Linked DNA regions of Homo sapiens. The protein of the gene in region 1 purifies or fractionates together with the protein of each later gene. This does not show direct contact. Each region holds a gene or a part of one and is shown in the gene's direction. Other genes may lie near its edges.

Evidence for each region.
Region 2: the proteins of EIF2S3 (region 1) and EIF3CL purify together in Homo sapiens (affinity purification with mass spectrometry; one large-scale study listed by BioGRID and IntAct). This does not show direct contact.

Annotation. Positions count from the first base shown.
Region 1 is NC_000023.11:24,061,318-24,064,971, forward strand, and holds part of EIF2S3 (eukaryotic translation initiation factor 2 subunit 3), read left to right. Parts: intron 1-1,098; coding exon 1,099-1,257; intron 1,258-2,883; coding exon 2,884-3,018; intron 3,019-3,654. UniProt on the Homo sapiens protein: Member of the eIF2 complex that functions in the early steps of protein synthesis by forming a ternary complex with GTP and initiator tRNA.
Region 2 is NC_000016.10:28,390,213-28,393,866, reverse strand, and holds part of EIF3CL (eukaryotic translation initiation factor 3 subunit C-like protein), read left to right. Parts: intron 1-1,724; coding exon 1,725-1,887; intron 1,888-2,011; coding exon 2,012-2,115; intron 2,116-2,815; exon of another isoform or gene 2,816-2,885; coding exon 2,886-3,027; intron 3,028-3,221; coding exon 3,222-3,347; intron 3,348-3,482; coding exon 3,483-3,576; intron 3,577-3,654. UniProt on the Homo sapiens protein: Component of the eukaryotic translation initiation factor 3 (eIF-3) complex, which is required for several steps in the initiation of protein synthesis.

The DNA of each region.
Region 1 (3,654 bases):
AGGCCAAGGCAGGTGGATCACTTGAGGTGTCAGGAGTTTGAGACCAGTCTGGCCAACATGGTGAAACCCTGCCTCTATTAAAAATACGAAAATTAGCCGGGTGTGGTGGGGCACACCTGTAATCACAGCTACTCAGGAGGCTGAGGCAGGAGAATCGCTTGAACTTGGGAGGCGGAGGTTGCAGTGAGCCGAGGTGACGCCACTGCACTCCAGCCTGGGTGACAGAGACAGAGTGAGACTCAGTCTCAAAAAAAAAATTTTTTTTTTAAAGCATGCCATGTTGGTATAGTCAGGACACTTGAATATCACGACTTGAGGAGGTTGATCATTAGAGTGCTCAACAAAACATGCCTATTTCTTTATAATACACTGTTGGTTATCTTCACAATAGCATTCTTCCCTCCCTCAGTTGAAGAGTAGCCTCTGATATTAGTAAAAATTCATAGACAGTATTAAGTGCTTTTCCCTTTTAATTACTCTCTACTTCTCAGGAGCTTGCCTGGGCCAGAACATTTCTAAAACTGGAGAGAGTTAGAGGGCTATACCTCATACCTGAGCAAAAGCTGAGTGCAGACCCTGAGAAAAGCCAAACTTGCTGATTTTAAGCTTCTTGCTTAGGACCAGGATTGGGAGCCACACAATTGGGAGGTTCCAGTGAATGCAGGCAACAGAGGATGAAGCAGGGCCAAAAGGTGGATACCTGGCAATAATATCTTCCTTATTAGGGTTAGAACATTCAGAAGTCTCCTTTATTAGATGCCAACTTTTTTTGGGGCGGGGAGTGGGTGGCAAAAGAGACTCATAAAATGTACCATTTTATGTATTTACAGGGTAGAATTTAGTGGCATTAAGCACATTGACAATTTTCTACAACATAGTGGTTGTCATTTCACCACTATCTAGTTCCAGAACTTTTGTATCAGAACTTTTGTATCACCGCAAAAGGAAACCCCATGCCCATGAAGCGTCAGTCCACATGTTTTCCTCCCCCAGCCCCTTGCAACCCATAATTTGCTTTGTCTCTTTATGGATTTGCCCGCCTATTCTGGATATTTCCAGCTATTCTTATATGCATCTTTTTTATTCTTCATCAACTAGCTGGTAATGAATCTTGCCCTCAGCCTCAGACATCGGAACACCTGGCTGCTATAGAGATCATGAAACTGAAGCATATTTTGATTCTACAAAATAAAATTGATTTGGTAAAAGAAAGTCAGGCTAAAGAACAATACGAGCAGATCCTTGCATTTGTCCAAGGTAAGAAGCCATAATATGAAATAAATCTATGAATCACTTTGAGAGGCATTTACTCTGGATACCAGATGTTAAATTAACTTTTAATATATTATCTAAAACAAGGTAAACTTACAAGTCTTAAGCCTTATCGCCCTACCTTTTGCTTGTTAGTAACCTGATATAACTAATGAAACCTGTGATTCTGAATTTAATATACTAAAGTATATTTTTGCTGGCAGCAAGTTAGAACTGAGGTTGTTTTCTGGAAACTTTATCAATCAGATTAAAAAAAATCTCAGTGACAGTAAAATGAATAAAATAATTTTAAAAAACCTTGTCTTACAGTATTTGTTACTGAACAGCTTTCAGATTTGGAAGTGACAGTGATTATTTAATCTCTAGAGTGTCGGCCGGGCATGGTGGCTCACACCTGTAATCCCAGCACTTTGGGAGGCTGAGGCAGGTGGATCATCTGAGGTCGGAAGTTCGAGACCAGCCTGACCAACACGGAGAAACCCCATCTCTACTAAAAATACAAAATTAGCAGGGTGTGGTGGCACATGCCTGTAATCCCAGCTACTTGGGAGGCTGAGGCAGGAGAATCGCTTGAACTTGGGGGGCGGAGGTTGCGGTGAGCCGAGATCACGCCATTGCACTCCAGCCTGGGCAACAAGAGCGAAACTCCATCTCAAATAAATAAATAATAAATCTCTAGAGTGTCCCTTCTCTAATAGCATAATGTTTTTCATTTCAGAGGAGATGTGATTTATTGTTGACATTTTCTCTCTCAGTCTTGTTTTTCTTTTTAGAAAGGTTAATTTCTTATGAACTCAGTTCTGTCATCACGAGAAGTAATAAGTGAATTTGATTAAAGTCTAATTGTGTTTGGTCTATTTCTTTGACTAGCTTGTTTGACGTATAATCAATACGTAGCAAATATATATGGTTGGGCGTGGTAGCTCACACTTGTAATACCAAGACTTTAGGAGGCTGAGGCGGGTGGGTCACTTGAGTCCAGGGGTTCAAGACCAACCTGGGCCACGTGGTAAAACTCTGTCAATACAAAAAATTAGCTGGGCTTGGTGGCACACACCTGTGTTCCCAGCTATTATGTAGGAGGCTGAAGTGGGAGGATCGCTTGGGCCTGGGAAGTGGAGGTTGCAACAAGCCGTGATTATGCCACTGCAGTCTAGCCTGGGTGACAAAGCGAGACCCTATCTCCAAAAAAAAAAAGTATATATGCCAGCAGTCTTTGATTAGCAGAGTCTGTAATTTTATCTTGACATTTATTGGGAGATTAATTACATGTTGTTAGAAATTTTTTCAACTAGTAGAGTGCTCTTTCACAGGAATGTTAGTATTTTCTTTATTTAAATAAGTTTATCATTGTACTAATATTAAGTATGTCTACTAATATAATGTAACAAATTTTCTCTTACAGGGATTTGTATTCATTTTCAGGAGTAAAAACAAACAATATTGCCATCTTTCTAAACAGAATTATCCACTTTCCACTTGTTGCTGACATTTATATGGGGTTTAGGCATCTATTTTATTATAGTAATCTTAATTGTTTTATGTAACAGATACATAGAATAAATTTTATAAAACTGTATAATTTTGATCTTTCTAAATTTTGTCATATAGGTACAGTAGCAGAGGGAGCTCCCATTATTCCAATTTCAGCTCAGCTGAAATACAATATTGAAGTTGTTTGTGAGTACATAGTAAAGAAAATTCCAGTACCCCCAAGAGACTTTACTTCAGAGCCCCGGCTTATTGGTAAGTGATAGGATTTGCCTTTAACTCTTAATCTGATCTTTTCCACATTGGTGATTCCTCTTCAAGGATGTTTATTAATATTTCCTCTTTCTGCAGAGGTGATAATTCATACAATTTTTTTGAAATCAATTCTGAGATTGTATTGGCAGTGCTAGATTGTATTACTGAATGAGGGACAGAGTCCTGAACACAGTAAGAACTGTTAACCTAAGCCGGGCGCAGTGGCTCACGCCTATAATCCCAATACTTTGGGGGGCCGAGGTGGGTGGATCACCTGAGTTCAGGAGTTTGAGACCAGCCTGATCAGCATGGTGAAACCCTGTCTCTACTAAACATATAAAAAATTAACTGGGCATGGTGGCGGGTGCCTGTAATCCCAGCTACTCGGGAGGCTGAGGCAGGAGAATGGCGCGAACCCGGGAAGCGGAGGTTGCAATGAGCTGAGATCGCGCCATTGTACTCCAGCCTGGGCAACAAGAGTGAAACTGCGTCTCAAAAAAACCCAAAAACAACTGCTAACCTTTCTGTGCTTAATATATGGTACATGATCAAGATGGAGTAATACAGTATTCTCCATGGAATCATAATGTTTTAGGGTGTTAGAACTTCCTGACTAAAACATTTACAGATGATTTT
Region 2 (3,654 bases), on another chromosome or scaffold:
TGAGTTTTTAGTCTCTTAACTATGTATTAAGTAGAGGTAATACTCGTTTAGAAATGTTGCTTTTATCTGTTGATTATATAGCTGAGGATATAAACATTTGTTATCTGATAATTTCTAACAAGATATGAATATACCAGAGTATAATCTGTCATAGGAGAGGTCAAGCCAAGTCTTAGGTCTTTCAGTTAGAATTTCATACAATAGTACATTTCCCTTTTGAGGTGTGTATCATACTATCTTTAGTGCTAGAAGTAATACTTTAGCCAAGGAAGTTTAAGTTCTTTTGAAGCATTCATTTTAAAAAATAGCTTTAGTTCTTCTGATCTCAGAGCTATACAGATGGTTTGGACCAAGAGGTTTTAGTTTAATGAACATGCTTTGCATATTTGCAAAGGATTTTACCTATAAAGTGAGTCATCATTAGAGTCTTGCAGTGGTACAGGGGAAAGATCCATAAGCTTTTGTTGTTGTTGTTGTTGTTGTTGTTGTTGTTTTTAATAGAGACGGGCTTTTTACCTTGTCACCCAGACTGGTCTCAAACTCCTGGGCTCAAGCAATACGCCCACCTCGGCCTCCCAAAGTGCTGGGATTACAGGCTTGAGCCACCGTGCTTGGCCAGTCCATACACTTTTGTTGAGAGTTATGGCATTGGTCTTCTGGCAAGGGAAGACTTAATTTAACTGGTAAACTTATAGACTATTCCAAAAACATATTCAAACCTTTTAAGCAGTGAAAATGAAATTTATTTATAAATGTTCAAATGGTAGATTATGGTTATTACATATGAGTTTTCAAAAATGTTGAGTCTTTCTGGAAAGATTTATTCTTCAGTATCTGTGCAAAGTTTGAAGTAATTTGTCTTTGCCATTTGGTTTGTATTTTGTTACATAAATACATACTCAAGTCTGGAGATGGTTTCAGGCAACATCCAGTAGCCTAAGACCATTTTAAGGTAGCTGGTGATCTTTTTCTGTTTTGTGGGGACCTTTTTTGTAATGAACATTTTTTTAAAATTCAGAATTTAGATTAATCGGTTGTCAAGAGAGGAGAGAAAGCGATAAAACAGTTTAGGAATAGTAAAAAAGAAAAAAATGTTTTTATATATTTGGGGGAACTGATTCATTGATTAGTTGGTCAGTCTGGAGAAAGCAGCTGGTATCAAAGAAAATAAGTTGTTTGTGGATTCTTTGGAAAACTGTAGATGTTAGCTTTGGAGCAAAATGACAGGTTGGTTTTTTTTTGTTTTGTTTTGTTTTGTTTTTTTGGAGACTGAGTCTTGCTCTGTCACCCCGGCTTAAGTGCAGTGGCATGATTGTGGCTCACTGCAGCCTTCTCTGCCTCCCAAGTTCAAGTGATTCTCGTGCCTCAGCCTCCTAAGTAGCTGGGACTACAGGCGTGCACCACCATGCCTGGCTAATTTTTGTACTTTTAGTAGAGATGGGGTTCCACCATGTTGCCCAGGCTGGTCTTGGATTCCTGACATCAAGTGATCTACCATGCTTAGCTGACAGGTTGTTTCTATTAATATGTCTACAGTGGCCTGGTTAGTACTCTGTCTTGTTAGAGATGGCTATGGTTATGGTTCACTGTGCCCTCTAGGTCATTGTTGTAGAGCATAACTTGGACCCAGGAGCTGCTGGAGGAAAAGAGGAAGTTGATGGGAGGAAGAAGCCTTAGAGGTGGGGAGGGGCTGATCTGTCATCTTCTCCCATGTCTGTCGGCAGGGCACCCACCACAGATGAGGACAAGAAGGCAGCCGAGAAGAAACGGGAGGACAAAGCTAAGAAGAAGCACGACAGGAAATCCAAGCGCCTGGATGAGGAGGAGGAGGAGGACAATGAAGGCGGGGAGTGGGAAAGGGTCCGGGGCGGAGTGCCGTTGGTTAAGGTGAGGGTTTCAGAGGTAAAATGAATTGGGGAACAGTTTGGGAGGACATAAAGGTCCCCTTGTGGGGAAAAGGCAAGGACAGTTTCCCGCTGGCATGTACATGACGGGATATGTACTGATACAGGAGAAGCCAAAAATGTTTGCCAAGGGAACTGAGATCACCCATGCTGTTGTTATCAAGAAACTGAATGAGATCCTACAGGCACGAGGCAAGAAGGGAACTGATCGGTAAGATTCGTGGGCCTGGGCAGTGGGATTGCAGGGTGGCAGAGGGTGGAGGTTGGGGGAAGGGATTGTTGGGAGGGTCTGTGTGTGGCTGTAGTAGAGGGAATTGTATGCTTGGGGCATCCCCGTCCATTATCTGCTGTTTACTCTTCTTGTGACTTAAAACCAATCACTTAACGTTTTGGATCTGTTTTCCCATCTATACAATGAGATAATGTTCTCCTCTTTTTTTTTTTTTTTTTTTTTTTGTTTGAGATGGAGTCTCGTTGTTGCCCAGGCTGGAGTGCACTGGCGCGATCTCGGCTCACTGCAACCTTTTTGCCTTCTGGGTTCAACCGATTCTCCTGCCTCAGCCTCCTGAGTAGCTGGGATTACAGGAACCCGCCACCATCCCTGGCTGATTTTGTACTTTTAGTAGAGATGGGGTTTCACCATGTCTCGAACTCCTGACTTCAAGTGATCCGCCTGCCTCAGCCTCCCAAAGTGCTGGGATTACAGGCATGAGCTACCACACCTGGCTTTTTTTTTTTTTAAGATTAAAAAAGTAAAAGAGTGTTTACCTTCTTTAGTTATTAGGTAACAGAGGATGGTGGTAGGTGTGAAGCATTTCACAGCATTCCAGGATGGTTGGGATTATTGTTGCTTCTGTTTGGAATTTATAAAGGAGAAGCAGGGATATGGGTGATGAGGAGGGCGCGTTATCCGAAGCGGGCATGCTGGGAGAGACTTTGTGATTTGTCTCCAAAGCCTCACCCAGCTCTCTGGCCCTCTAGTGCTGCCCAGATTGAGCTGCTGCAACTGCTGGTTCAGATTGCAGCGGAAAACAACCTGGGAGAGGGCGTCATTGTCAAGATCAAGTTCAATATCATCGCCTCTCTCTATGACTACAACCCCAACCTGGCAACCTACATGAAGGTGAGAGCAGTGAAGAGGCTCATCTCAGGGCATCGCTGGTGGGTTGGGGGAAGAAGGTACCTAGCATCTTAAGACTCAGGGGCTATGGAGGCAGTCTTGGTGGTGGAAGGCCCCATGATTCCTGCTGAAGGGGGAGGCATCCGCTTACTCTACCTTCACACCTCTGACTCTGATGTGGCCTGAAATCTTGGCAGCCAGAGATGTGGGGGAAGTGCCTGGACTGCATCAATGAGCTGATGGATATCCTGTTTGCAAATCCCAACATTTTTGTTGGAGAGAATATTCTGGAAGAGAGTGAGAACCTGCACAACGCTGACCAGGTAAAGGGAGGAGTTGGCAGGATAACTGGAGGTGTGTATTTTATGCTTTGGGAAGGCTCAGTGGGACCCGAGGGTTGAGGTTTGAGACTGAGATCTGGGCTAATTTGTTGACTCCTCCTTCGCCTTCCTTTTCAGCCACTGCGTGTCCGTGGCTGCATCCTAACTCTGGTGGAACGAATGGATGAAGAATTTACCAAAATAATGCAAAATACTGACCCTCACTCCCAAGGTGAGCCTGAGCAAGCGTGGGCTTTGCTGAGAGGAAAATTGTGGGGAATATTACTAGGTTTAGAGCTTTGTGAGGATT